Regions from separate parts of the Homo sapiens genome. Here region 2 is linked to region 1. Evidence: fine-mapped expression QTL. Tissue or cell type: tibial artery. Region 1 holds a variant in brackets; the other region holds the start of a gene. All regions are shown on one strand. Distances are from middle to middle.

Region 1 (7,803 bases):
TCTGGGACTCGGTCTCCCCAAATGGAAGGGGAGAGGGTCAGCCGTGATGGCCTCTAAGCCACCTCCCCTCTGGCACCCTGTCTTCCCATGTCATCTCCAACCCGTGGCCTTTAAACCACCAGCCAGGATCAAATTGCCAAAGTCGCCTCCGCCATCCTGCCCAGCTGGGAATGATTTTTAAACAAAGCCCACGTTCCTGGTGAGCCTATTGATTTCTGGGTTCCCAAGCCCACCACCACACTGCAGTGTCCTTGCCAAGCCAACAGTGAGGCGTAAACAGACAGCAAAACTCCGGCAAGCGAATAAATAAACAAATCACCACTGCAACCCCACCACGTTCCTCTTCGCCCCGGTGTCTTTTCAAGAACAAGTGTCTTGGTGACAATGTCCAGACATCAGCGGCCCTGCCGGGGAAGAGGGTAGGGCTGGGGCGCTGGCGAGGACAATTGGAATAAAACGGAGGTCAGACCCCCAAGAAGGACCGGCCAACTTCAATCCCATAATGGAAGTCTTGTGGGGGCCGGATTTTGCCTTCGAAGGCTCCCAGTGGACTCTTGTGAAGACAGCAAGCACTGTGCAGGGATAAAGTGGCTTTTAGAACTATTAGAAAGTGGGTGTGCTGGGAATGGGGGGGAAAGGGGGGCCAGGATGGGAACATTAAAATTCTGCTCCTGCCCAGGGTTTCTGGGCTCCAGCTCGCCATGCGAGCATCGATCTGTTCCAGCATTTGACTTTCAACCATGACAAAACTGTGGGCAAATTAATTGTTCTCCAGGATATTAAACATCAGACTCCATTAATCCTTTCTGAGCGAGATGCTTGCTGAATACTAATCGGAAGGGTTCCAGGCTGCCAGGGGGCATTTATCCTGCCACAGAGGCCCCAGTGGGTCCCACCCCTTCTCTCTCCCTTGGGCAGGGGTGCCGAGGGCTGAGCACCCTTCTCCACACCATGTGTTACCTTTATTTCCCTTTGTGGCCGGGGACAGAGGGGGAACAGGTGGACGCGACCTGAAACCTTCCCCACCCCCACCTGGGCGTCTTCTTCCCAGGAAGCCGTGGGACTGGTAGCAAGATTGTTTTATGCAAATTCCAATATCTGTATGCAGCCACGGCCGTGAGGATGAACACAAGAAATAATTGCCAAATTATGCACGTTGAGTTGGTTTTCCTGAGTCTCGAGCCCTTAAAAGATAAAGAAGAAACACAGCGACGAGAGTGTCTAAAACAGACAAACAACCTCTTGGCTCTGGTCGCCCAAGGTGGGTGGGCCACCGCGTTGGCTGAGGACAGAACAGAACGGAATCTTTGTGGGTTTTGAGGGGGATGGAGTGGTAGGCCCTGCATGGGAGTCAGGGGGTCTGAGCTCCAGGCTGCCACCAAATTGCAAGGTGTCTTTGAGCAAGTCACTTCCCTTCTTGCAGCCTCAGTTTCCCATTTGCAGAAGGGGAAGATAGCCAAAGCCTGACAATGCTGTCATTTGAAATGTGGATGGGGCGTAGCGGGGGGATCCCACTGGGCTCGAGGCAGGGCTGACCAAATGGGCACAGCAGGGGTCTGTGGGGACAGGGAAGATCTCTGGGGCTTCAGCTTGCTCTGCAAATCGCGCTTGTCTCTTTTTCTATGGCAACAACTCTTTTATCCATAGGGTTTTGGTGCAATCAACTCATGTCAGGGAGGCTGGTTGAGAACATGATCCCATTTCACAGAGTGCAGCTCACAGCAGCAGAGGGTCAAGCCAAAGCTATGTCCTGTAGGAGGCAGAACAAGGATTAGACTGCCTATCTGTACTGTCATCCTGGGACAATTCTATCCTCTTCGCACCCCAAGCTACCTCTCCTGGTTAGGTGCTTCCTTCCCATATGGGGAGCTCAGTACTGCCCAGAAAAGAATGCGGTTCTTGCTTCCCATAATCCCAAAGTATCCCCTACACCAGCCCTCACCTGGGCTCTCATCCCAATTTAGCGAAATCCAGGTCTGTCACAGGACCCCTAAATTACCACTCCCACCGCGACCCCCATCATCCCATACATTATAAAGCACTTTGCACTAAGCTCCTTCCATGCCTCATCCCACTGACTGCTCACAACCACTTTTTAAGGGGAGGGTCCTATTATGATTCTTGCTTTCTGAGGCTCAGAGAAGCCAAGCCACTTGTCCAAGATCACACAGTAAGTCAGTGACTGTGCTGGGATTCAAACTTGCATCTGTCTGACTTCAAAGCCCACTGGCTATACTATGTATGTATCTCATCTTTAATTCTTCTTTCCTCCTGGTCTGGAGGGTGGCAGAGGCTTTCCTCACCCTTCGCACTCCTTCCTGTTTCCACCACTTCCCATTTCTCTCAATCTATGTTTTTGGACTGCTGTGGGCAGAGAGAAAACAGTGCCAGCAACTCACTAACTGTGAGGATATTTATGCCTCTGCAAACACCACACAAGCCTTTTGCATGATTTGGGGCTAAATGCAGTGTTACTTAATTAATGCACATGTAACACTCGAGAATATTACACCTATTAGAACTCATGGACAATTAACACTCAACGGGCTGCTGCCACAACCACGTCACATAGACAAAGGCTCCAGAAGCGCCTCGGTGCTGAATCAATTGCCCAGGGAAAATGCCTCCTCCCTCCTGCACTTTGTCTACTTTTGCCACCTTGACCTCAGTGTCTTCCTCTTCCCCTTTCATCTTTAACTTTTCTGTATTTAGCCTTTTAGCTTGGACAATTTGGCATCATGACGTATTAAAATGATGACATATAAAACCTCGTATTATACTTTATATTACATATAATACATTTCTGCTTTGGGAGTGTTTTGTGCAAACAAGTCTCTAGGCTCTGTGCTGCCAGGGCTTCTGGGTCATCAAATATTTTGAATTTCCTGCTTTCCCAAAGAGACTGATTTTCTTTCTCATTTTAATATTTATAATAGGAAAAGAAGAGTCACCTTCTCCAGGAAGCATCCCGTGATTTCTTCAGCACTTTCTCATACTTCTCATACTTCTCTCTACTGATACCCTCCAGTGCTTAAGACATCATAGACTCTATGTGGCCTGGATCCCCGTTGTCTCCCCGCCTGATGGGGGCGTATCCCAGAGGGCCCCAATTCTCACAGCTGTGAAATGAAACCCAGAAAACCTTTCCATCCACTCTCTGGGGCTGCAGGGAGAGCGGAGTAAGATTTGGTGCTATGCAAACCCACAGCTGAGTTTGATGCAGCATCTTCTCGGTACATTCACCTTTCCAATCTGTCAAATGGGTGTGCTGATCCCATCCTTGAAAGCTTGGCTGAGTGTTAAAGGAACCATCATCACATGTAAGGAGCCTAGCCTACTGCCAAGCACTGTGGTAAGCGACGCAGAGCCTGAATTACATAAATCAGGAGTCCCCACCCCCATTCCAAAAATAGTTGTTGAGTGCCTACTGTGTGCAAGGGCTGCAATGCAGATTAAGATACACATGACCCCCTGCTTCAGGAGGCGTCCAGTCTAGTGGGAGTGATAGGCAGTAAACCCACAAACAAGTAAGTAAATGGATAATCCTGGCACATGCTATATGTTCGGAAGGAAATATCTGAATGACAAGATGGTAATGGATAAGATTTTTCCTGGGGTGGTCAAGGAGGGCTTCCTGGAGGAGGTGTCTTTTGGGCAGAGGCTAAAGAAAGAGAAAGAGTTGACAGGTGACAAGGAGGATAAATAGCTTCAAGTGGTTGGTGCTCTGCCCATATCCTCCTGTCACTCACCACTCGCCTGCAAGGTGGGGAGATGTCTGCAGGCGCCTGCTTGGCCCCAGTGTAGAAGGAAGAGGAGTGTAGGGAATAAATGCCCCTTCCTGGGGGAAGCAGCCCTCCACCAATGACAGATGGGAGCTGGAGTATAAATACCCTGGTTTCCTTGCTCCTTGGGCGGATGACTCTGAGGTGAGTGTTCTTGCAAAAGGTCCTCAGCACAACTGAGCCCCAGTCACCCACAGCAAAAACTGGCTGCTTAATGGCAGCCAGACTTGACCACCTCCCCTCTTTGCCTCAAGTCCCCATCCCCTGTTGATACATCCTGGGATCCCCCTCCCAGATAAACTAGCCCTGCAGTGCTTATCTCGAAGTCTGCTGGTGACACCTCCCAAGCAGACACCTCAGGGGTCAGTGAGTGGCAGATCGCCCTGGGCTCCCAGGTTGAGGTTCCTCTAGAATCCTCCCAAGAGGCCTCACTCAGTCTCCACCCCAAGGCCCCGCCTGCCCAGGCCTGGGGGATTAGCAGAGTCCCCAGGGCTGGCCTTCAGATCCATCCCCAGACACTATTTCCAAAAAGGATTAAATAAATACGTCCAGCGGGAGGGGGAGCTCCGGCTTTCACTGCCCGCTGGCGGGAAATTAAATAATGTTCGTTTCTGCTGCTGTGAGCCGGAACAAGGCTGGCCGAGCTGCAGGGCTGGGCCAGGAGGCGGCCGCGATTGGCAGCTTGTGGTAAGCCCTAAATCAAAGGAGCCGATGAGATTTCTAATAGCAGGAGCGCGACTGGCATCGGCGTATAAATAAAGCTCCCCTCTTGAAAGACAGCTTATTCTAGCCTTGCCGCCAAGGATATTAAGCCTGGAGGACTGGTGGCTGTGGCCAGGC[T/C]GGACCCCCGCCAGAAGCCAGCTGGGCTGGGGAGGCTCGAGTCCTTCCCCAGCTGCTGCCCTGGCTGCCCCTGAAACAGTCCCCAGGGTTCAGCTCCTGGCCATGCCCAGCCCCTAGCTGGGTGGATGTGTGTGGTGTGTGTTTGCAGGGCAGATTTTATCATTCCCATTGCCCAGATGAGCACACCAAGATTCTGGGGGTAGGTGTTCTGCCAGAGGTCACACAGAACGTCAGCGGTCCCTTTCTAGGTGAAGGGCAGGGAAGGGGAGATTCAGAGTCATGTCTGATTCCACATCTCACAGTGGTCAAATGGGCGCAAACTGTCCCATGGAGGATCTGGAGCCACTTCTCAGGCTGGCCAGCCCCTGCCTCTCTGTTCTGCATCCCAGGCTGCTCCTTGCAGAAATGAGCCAGCCCCGGCACTTACTCCCAGGTACCTGCTGTCCCAGGCGGGCAGAAGGAAACATGTCTTCAAACAACCCTCATGATCCCCTCCTGTGGGCTCCAGTCTAGTCTGGTGGCTGGGCCCATAAGCTCTGGAACCAGACTGCCTGGGATTGGATTTTGTCTCCACTGCCCTGGCTGTGTGGCCTTTTACAAGTTGCCTAACTTCTCTGGGCCTCAGCTTCCTCATCTGTGAAGTGGGGATAATAACAGCACCTGCCTTCTGGTGTTGATGTGGGAATTAAATAAGATGATTCATGTAGAGGACTCAGCTCAGACGTACACCAATAAGTGTCCTATAAGTTCGTGCTTTCATTTATCACCATTCATTCATTCATTCATTCACTCATTCACTGCTGTGACTGCAGGGCCTCACGCATGACTGGTGTTCTATAAGTATTTAATATCTTATAATAATAATAGTTACTATACATTTATATAATAAAAATAAATAGTTTATTATTATTATTCATTAGAGACAGGACCTGACTCTGTCACCCCAACTGGAGTGCAGTAGTACAATCGTAGCTCACTGAAGCCTCAACCTCCTGGGCTCAAGTGATCCTCCCACCTCAGCCTCCGTAGTAGCCAGGACTACAGGCATGTGCCACCACACCTGGCTAATTTGTTTTTATTTTTTATTTTTATTTATGTAGAGACGGGGTTTCACTATGTTGCCCAGGCTGGTCTTGAACTCTTGGCCTTGAGGGATCCTCCTGTCTCAGCCTCCCAAAGTGGATTTCCTGTGATTAGACATGCAATCGTAGTGCTGGGTGCTGCGGGCTTCAGCAGGGGCAAAGGGGACCATGGCAGGTTCGGGCCTGTCACGGAGCCTAGGGTCCAAAAATCCCCAGGAAGATATTGAATGAGGCTTCCTAGAGGTAATAGGTGTCATAAAAAGGATGTGCAGGGCTACACGAGTGAAATCCTATCTGCTGGGGTCAGAGAGGCCTTTTCCAGGAGGGGTCATCTCCCAAGGGGCCTTTGGGTCAGAGGAAGAGTGTTCCAGGCAGGGGGTGTGCATGGGCAAAGGCCATGAAACAGGGAGGAGCAGTGGTGCCCTGTCCCGTGAGTCCCTCTGTGAGTCAGGCTCTAGGGCAGGTCAGGAAACTAGCAGGACGCAGGAGGGCTCAGTGTCCTGTGTGCGCATTTTGCAGATGGGCAAACTGAGCCTGAGATAACCCAACAGGCAAAGCCAGAATGGATCGGGGTTTGTTGCCTTCTGCTCCAGCACTCTTCTCCAGGGAGGACAAGCTCACGACAGCTAGGAGAGGTTCAAGCCATGAGCTGACGGGTGTGCAAGTCTCAGCTCAGCGAATTTCTCTGAAGCCCCAGGAATGAGGCACAGGAGCCCCGTTTAACAGAGGGGGAAGCTGATACTTGGTAAGTTCTATCACTGCAGTCAGCAAAGGAGTTTGGATTCAAACCCACAGTCAAATGCTGGAACCTGGCCTCATACCCCTGGGCTGTCTGTCCTACCTGGGGAGGAGGGATTGCAGAGCTGAGCCAGACCCTCAGGCAGTGGTTTCTTTTCTGTCCTTCCTGGGCCATGAACACCTCTCCAGCCCTGGCCGCAGCCGCTGAGGACAGACACTAGGGTCTTTCTCCCTCCCTCTTTCTTCCTCCTTCCATTGTCTCCAGATTCTGGTTCCATTTCAGAATCTGACTTCACAGGGTCTGACCCTTTTGTGCAAATTCCAAAGCCCTTTTCTTTGTGATTATAATTTTTTTTTTTTTTTTTTTTTTGGAATCCAACATCTCTTGACAGGAAAATCGGTGCTTGAGGTTGGAGAAGTTTGCTGCATTCTCCATGTGAAAGCCATTACGGGCCTGTCCGGGACGGAGCCCACGCATGTGTGCACACACACGGTCTGACTGCCTTCCTTGCGCCCTGGAAAAGTGCGTCCAGCTGTCAGCCTGGAGCCCGCCCGGCCGGATGTAATGCAAACCAGGCAGCCGGGAAGAAGTGCGTGCTTTAATCAGGGCTCACAGCTGCTCGGCCCCAGCCCCGCTTCCATCAGGTGTCTGTTCTCACTCTGGGTGGGGGGCTCCTCTGTGGCTGCAAATACAGCCGGGGTTGGGGCCTGGTGGTCCCGGGTGGGGGCTTCCTAGCTGGTTTAGGACCCTCTAGGTGGCATGTGCTTTGGAGCTAAAGGTAGGGGATCTGGCAAAGGCGATGCTGGTGGAGGCAGGGAGGCAGAGGGCAGCCCCCAAATTAGGTGAGTGTGTGAAGGGCATGAGTAGGCCTGCAAGAAAGGTGCAGAAGAGAGGGGAAGGGCTTTAGGAGCAAAAGGGAGGACAAGGAGACAATTGAGGTAAGGGAGAGAGAATGATGGAGATGGTGTGGGAGGGAAAAGGAGGTAGAGAAATGAAGAAAGAGAGAGTGAGCCCCTGAGAAAGAGACAGAGAGAGAGTCTTAGGAGTAGGGGCAAGGAGAGGAAGGATTAAGGAGAGAATTTTTTTAAATGGAGAGAGACAAACAGAGAAGAGCAAGTAAGGGCCAGAAAAAAAAGAAAACCGAAAAAGATCCTGAGATGATTTTCCGGAATCCTAACAGGAGGAGGTCGGAATCCCCGGCCTGGCCTCAGACAGGCCTGAGTTTGATTCACTTCCTGGCCCCAGGTGACCTTGGGCAAGTTCTGTCTCCCTCACCTCCTACCCCGGCCTCAGTCTCCCTGTCTGTTAAATGAGCTCGCCGGGGACTTGATGGTCTCTGAGGCTTCTCCAGGGATGCCAA
Region 2 (5,000 bases), 360 kb before region 1:
AATTCCATTTCTTTTCTAGTTCTGAAACCTCTAAGCTATCAGCAAGAGGATAGTTCACATGAAAACTAATTACACAAAATCAATATTTAATCACAGACCAACAACCTGATCCTGCAGAAAAATCCTTTAAAAACTCCACCGCCCTGTACAAATACTTATTCCCTATGCTTATTTATGGACCCCATTTTTGATGGGGGTAATTTTCATTTTTAATTTCAAAAAAGAAAAAATATATATGTCTGTAAACTTCCACAACAGGAAGGCCCCGGGAAAGGTCTTGGATCTGAGCTTGCTCTGGCTGAGTTTTAAAGTTGTTGTTTTTTCTTGTTTGTTTATTTTTAATTAAAATTTTTTTTGGGCGGGGGGCAATTTCTTAGGAATTCTGCCGCTACCCCAAAGTTGAGCCCATTTCCCCCCACCCCCGGCATGTCGGTTCTGGCATACTTAGCACTGCCTTCCTAGCCGCAACTCAGGGGAGCAATGAATCTGCGCGTACGACATGGTAACTTTTTAACTCCTGCCCGCGACGGTGGAGTGCTTAATCTAAGGTTTTTAAATAAAAAGGGCTCAGGGGTTGGTTTTATTATAACGTTTATTTCATTTCAGATTTCATGCGTAATTTAGCAAACGCTAGACAGACTCGGGCGATAAACACTTTCTTTTGTGGGGGGGGAAAGGCATTTTCATACACCACGCTTAATTTTATTTAGATTTAATAGCGATATCAGGGGCACTTCAAAGAAAGTTCTTTTTTCGCCCTTCTCCTAAGAATGCGAATCTGCTAGCAAAATCGCCTCGTGCTATTTTATGGCAAGGAAAATTAAAGGCCTTCTCCCCCCTCCTTCCCTACACACACTTTAGGGAGGAACACACACACACACACACACGCATGCACAAACACACGCACGCAGGCGCGAGCACACGCACACAGGCGCACAGAATAAACACCTCTATCCTCCATCACCTCTAACTTCCAACTTCTAATTGCAAGATAGATTTCAGCCTCTGTGGGGATCAGGACGATCTAAACATTTTAACTAAGATTATTGGGATAAATATTTCATAAAGAGCAGGGCAGATATTAAATTACTCCTATTGATTTTAGTATCACAGCCCAATTCCATTCCTCGGCCTCTTCAGTTTAATTGATCTCTTAAGGAGGCCAACTTCGCACCCGCAGAGGGTCTGGGTCTTGGACCGGGTGGCCCAGGGCAAGGTGTGCGGCCCGGCGGGTGCGCCCTCTTCGTGCGTGTCTTCTCGGGGTTCCCAGCCGCCTCGCAAGTCGCTCCGGTTACTGGGCTCAACCGATGTGCTCCCCCATAAAGTGGCTGAGTGACTGTGACTCCTTGGAGCCCACGCCGGCCGGTGAGAACCGGGAACCCCAGGCAGTGGGGAAGGGGAACAATTGTGAACGCCCTAGTGACGGAGGAGTGAGCAAGCGCCCAGGTCTCTCGAGGAGAACCCTAACTTCGAGGTTCCCCGTCTGCTTTACCCTCCAAGAAAATCCCAGGGCCGGCTAACTTGGGCGCCGCTAGCGGAGAACGGAGTGTTCACCCCGGAGCCGAAGTGCAGTAGACACTTAGCGACTTTCCGTGGCGAGTCTAGGGTCTTTGCCTGGCGACCTCATTGTCTGAGCGCCCCGTACCGCTCACCGCCCACCTCCCCGCCCCCTGCCCACCCGGTGGGTCTCGCTCCAGTTGGGGGTGGGGAGTTGGGAACAGTGTGAATGGGAAGGGGGTGAACAAAGCCAAGCTCCCGCCATTCTCCTCCGCCTGCACCCTCTCCAGCTCGATGCGCCCGGAGGCCGGGGCGCGCCCCCAGCGCACTGACGCCGGACCCCGAGGAGAGGCGGGCGCAGGGGACCCCAGAGCTGGGGTAGTGCGGGTTCGTGGCGGGGGCTTCGGCAGCCAGGACCCCGGACCACCTTAAGAGCGAGCCCCGCCCCGAGCCCGGAACTTGGGCGGCGCTGATTGGTGCAAATGTAATGGCTGAAATTGATTGCTGAAATGCAAAACTTGTTGCTGCTTCTCCCGGCGCTGGGCGAGAGGCAGACACAGAGAGGGGAGCCGAGACCCTCGGAACGCCCCACGCAGAGCCCCCCCGCTAGTCGGGAGAGGGGTGCGCAGACCCCCCAGAGCTGCCCCCGCGCCCCCCTCCCCCCATTCCGGGCTCTGAGAGCGCAGCGGGAACGCCTTAGCCTGCTCGCCCGGCGTGGCCCCCCGACCCGCGTACGCCCCCCTCCCTCAGGTCCGAGAGGGACTCGCGAAGCACCTCAGCGCGGAGGCAGGGAACCGGAGCCTTGGAGCGACCCAACCCCTCGTCTCGCTGCCCTCCCGCGCCTGCAACGGTGCGCGGAGACTCCGGCGAACTCAGACACCCAACGGCGGAGAACAGAAGCGGCAGGCGGCGGACGTGGCCGCGAAGCTGCGCGCCGAACGCAGCGCACCCGCTGCCGAGCAGAGGAGCCGCGCCTTTCCCCGACCCTCGGCTCCAGCCCCCGGCGCCTGCCGCCTCGCAGCCCCTCTGCGTCCTCGGCTCGGGGGCCGGCACCGGCGATGCCGAGCGGAGCCTCCAGTCCTCCGACCCGCTGAAGAAGCAGCAGCCGCTCGCCCGGAGCCTACGGGGATTGTGCGAGCGGATCGTGCTCGGTGGAGGCTCGGGCTGCGGGGCGCGGGGACTCCGGGGGGCGGGGGGAGGGACCGCTCTGTCGGTGCCCGGCGCCAGCCGCGGCTTTGAAGGGTCTCCCTCCCCTGCCCTTAGCAGCTCTGCCACGGACTCCGGGAGGCTGCGGGCGGCGTCCTGAGGGCTCCCCAGCAGACCCAATCGGACTTGAGAAGGTGATCGCTCTGCTCTCCCAACCCCCTTCCCTCCCCATTCCCCCCACTTAACTTTTTGTCTCCGTTCATCCGCGGCTTCGTCCCCTCCCCGCAGACCCACCCGCGGCTGTGACAACCGCCCGGGGCATGGGCCCCCCAACACGGCTCCTAGAGGCCCCGCGGCCTCGCAAGATGTGAGAGGCCCTCCCCGGGCAGAATCGGAGCTTCAGGAGAGGAGCTAATACCCCGCCCCCCGTCCCTCACATCAGGCGGGGTGGAGGTGCGCGCTGAGCCCCCGCGGTGCTGAGCGTCCCGGAGCGCCCAATCCTGGGCTGGAACGAGTAGCTGGCCGGAGGCGCGCCGCGGAGAGCCGGCTGTCATGCCCTATTGATCCCCCTCTGCCCCCCGCCAAGTATGTTTGGGCTGGACCAATTCGAGCCCCAGGTCAACAGCAGGAACGCTGGCCAGGGCGAGAGGAACTTTAACGAGACCGGACTGAGCATGAACACCCACTTTAAGGCCCCGGCTTTCCACACTGGGGGGCCCCCTGGCCCTGTGGATCCTGCTATGAGCGCGCTGGGCGAACCCCCGATCTTGGGCATGAACATGGAGCCCTACGGCTTCCACGCGCGCGGCCACTCGGAGTTGCACGCAGGGGGGCTGCAAGCGCAGCCTGTGCACGGCTTCTTTGGCGGCCAGCAGCCTCACCACGGCCACCCGGGAAGTCATCATCCCCACCAGCATCACCCCCACTTTGGGGGCAACTTCGGTGGCCCGGACCCCGGGGCCTCGTGCCTGCACGGGGGTCGCCTGCTCGGCTACGGCGGCGCAGCCGGAGGCCTGGGCAGCCAGCCGCCCTTCGCCGAGGGCTATGAGCACATGGCGGAGAGCCAGGGGCCTGAGAGCTTCGGCCCGCAGCGACCGGGGAACCTCCCGGACTTCCACAGTTCAGGTGCCTCCAGCCACGCCGTGCCGGCCCCATGCCTGCCGCTGGACCAGAGCCCTAACCGAGCCGCCTCCTTCCACGGCCTGCCGTCCTCCAGCGGCTCCGATTCCCACAGTCTGGAGCCACGGAGGGTGACGAACCAAGGAGCCGTCGACTCGCTGGAATACAATTACCCGGGCGAGGCGCCCTCGGGACATTTTGACATGTTTTCGCCCTCTGACTCCGAAGGGCAGCTGCCTCATTATGCAGCGGGTCGCCAGGTTCCTGGGGGCGCTTTCCCGGGCGCCTCGGCCATGCCCAGAGCTGCGGGCATGGTGGGCTTGTCCAAAATGCACGCCCAGCCACCGCAGCAGCAGCCCCAGCAGCAGCAGCAGCCCCAGCAGCAGCAGCAGCAGCATGGTGTGTTCTTTGAGAGGTTCAGTGGGGCCAGAAAGATGCCTGTGGGTCTGGAGCCCTCAGTGGGCTCCAGGCACCCGTTAATGCAGCCTCCCCAGCAGGCCCCGCCACCCCCTCAGCAGCAGCCCCCGCAGCAGCCGCCACAGCAGCAGCCGCCGCCGCCACCCGGGCTTCTAGTCCGACAAAATTCGTGCCCGCCTGCGCTCCCTCGGCCCCAGCAGGGCGAGGCGGGCACGCCCAGCGGCGGCCTGCAGGACGGAGGCCCCATGCTGCCCAGCCAGCACGCGCAATTCGAGTATCCCATCCACCGGCTGGAGAACCGGAGCATGCACCCTTATTCCGAGCCTGTTTTCAGCATGCAGCATCCTCCTCCGCAGCAGGCGCCCAACCAGCGGCTGCAGCATTTCGACGCGCCCCCCTACATGAACGTGGCCAAGAGGCCGCGCTTCGACTTTCCGGGCAGCGCGGGAGTGGACCGCTGCGCTTCGTGGAACGGCAGCATGCACAACGGCGCTCTGGATAATCACCTCTCCCCTTCCGCCTACCCAGGCCTACCCGGCGAGTTCACACCGCCTGTGCCCGACAGCTTCCCTTCGGGGCCGCCCCTGCAGCATCCGGCCCCGGACCACCAGTCCCTGCAACAGCAGCAGCAGCAGCAGCAGCAGCAGCAACAGCAGCAGCAGCAGCAGCAACAGCAACAGCAACAGCAGCAGCAGCAGCAGCGCCAAAACGCGGCCCTCATGATTAAGCAGATGGCGTCGCGGAATCAGCAGCAGCGGCTGCGCCAGCCCAACCTGGCTCAGCTAGGCCACCCCGGGGACGTGGGCCAGGGCGGCCTGGTG

What was found. PIP is the estimated chance that this variant, and not a neighbour inherited with it, causes the effect.
Region 2: MN1 starts here. The variant in region 1 is fine-mapped to the expression of MN1 in tibial artery (GTEx, PIP above 0.99).

What each region holds. Positions count from the first base shown.
Region 1 is chr22:27,435,194-27,442,996 of GRCh38, reverse strand. It overlaps LOC105372980 (a long non-coding RNA gene), which reads right to left and starts at 6,705. Exons shown (of 3, transcript XR_938123.4): 1 at 6,546-6,705; 2 at 2,952-3,119; 3 at 1,063-1,750. RefSeq lists an enhancer at 4,500-5,163. The variant T/C (reference allele first, on the strand shown) is at 4,623.
Region 2 is chr22:27,798,774-27,803,773 of GRCh38, reverse strand. MN1 (MN1 proto-oncogene, transcriptional regulator) reads left to right here and starts at 2,018. Exons shown (of 2, transcript NM_002430.3): 1 at 2,018-5,000. The coding sequence starts at 3,231. RefSeq lists enhancers at 3,952-4,497, 4,498-5,000.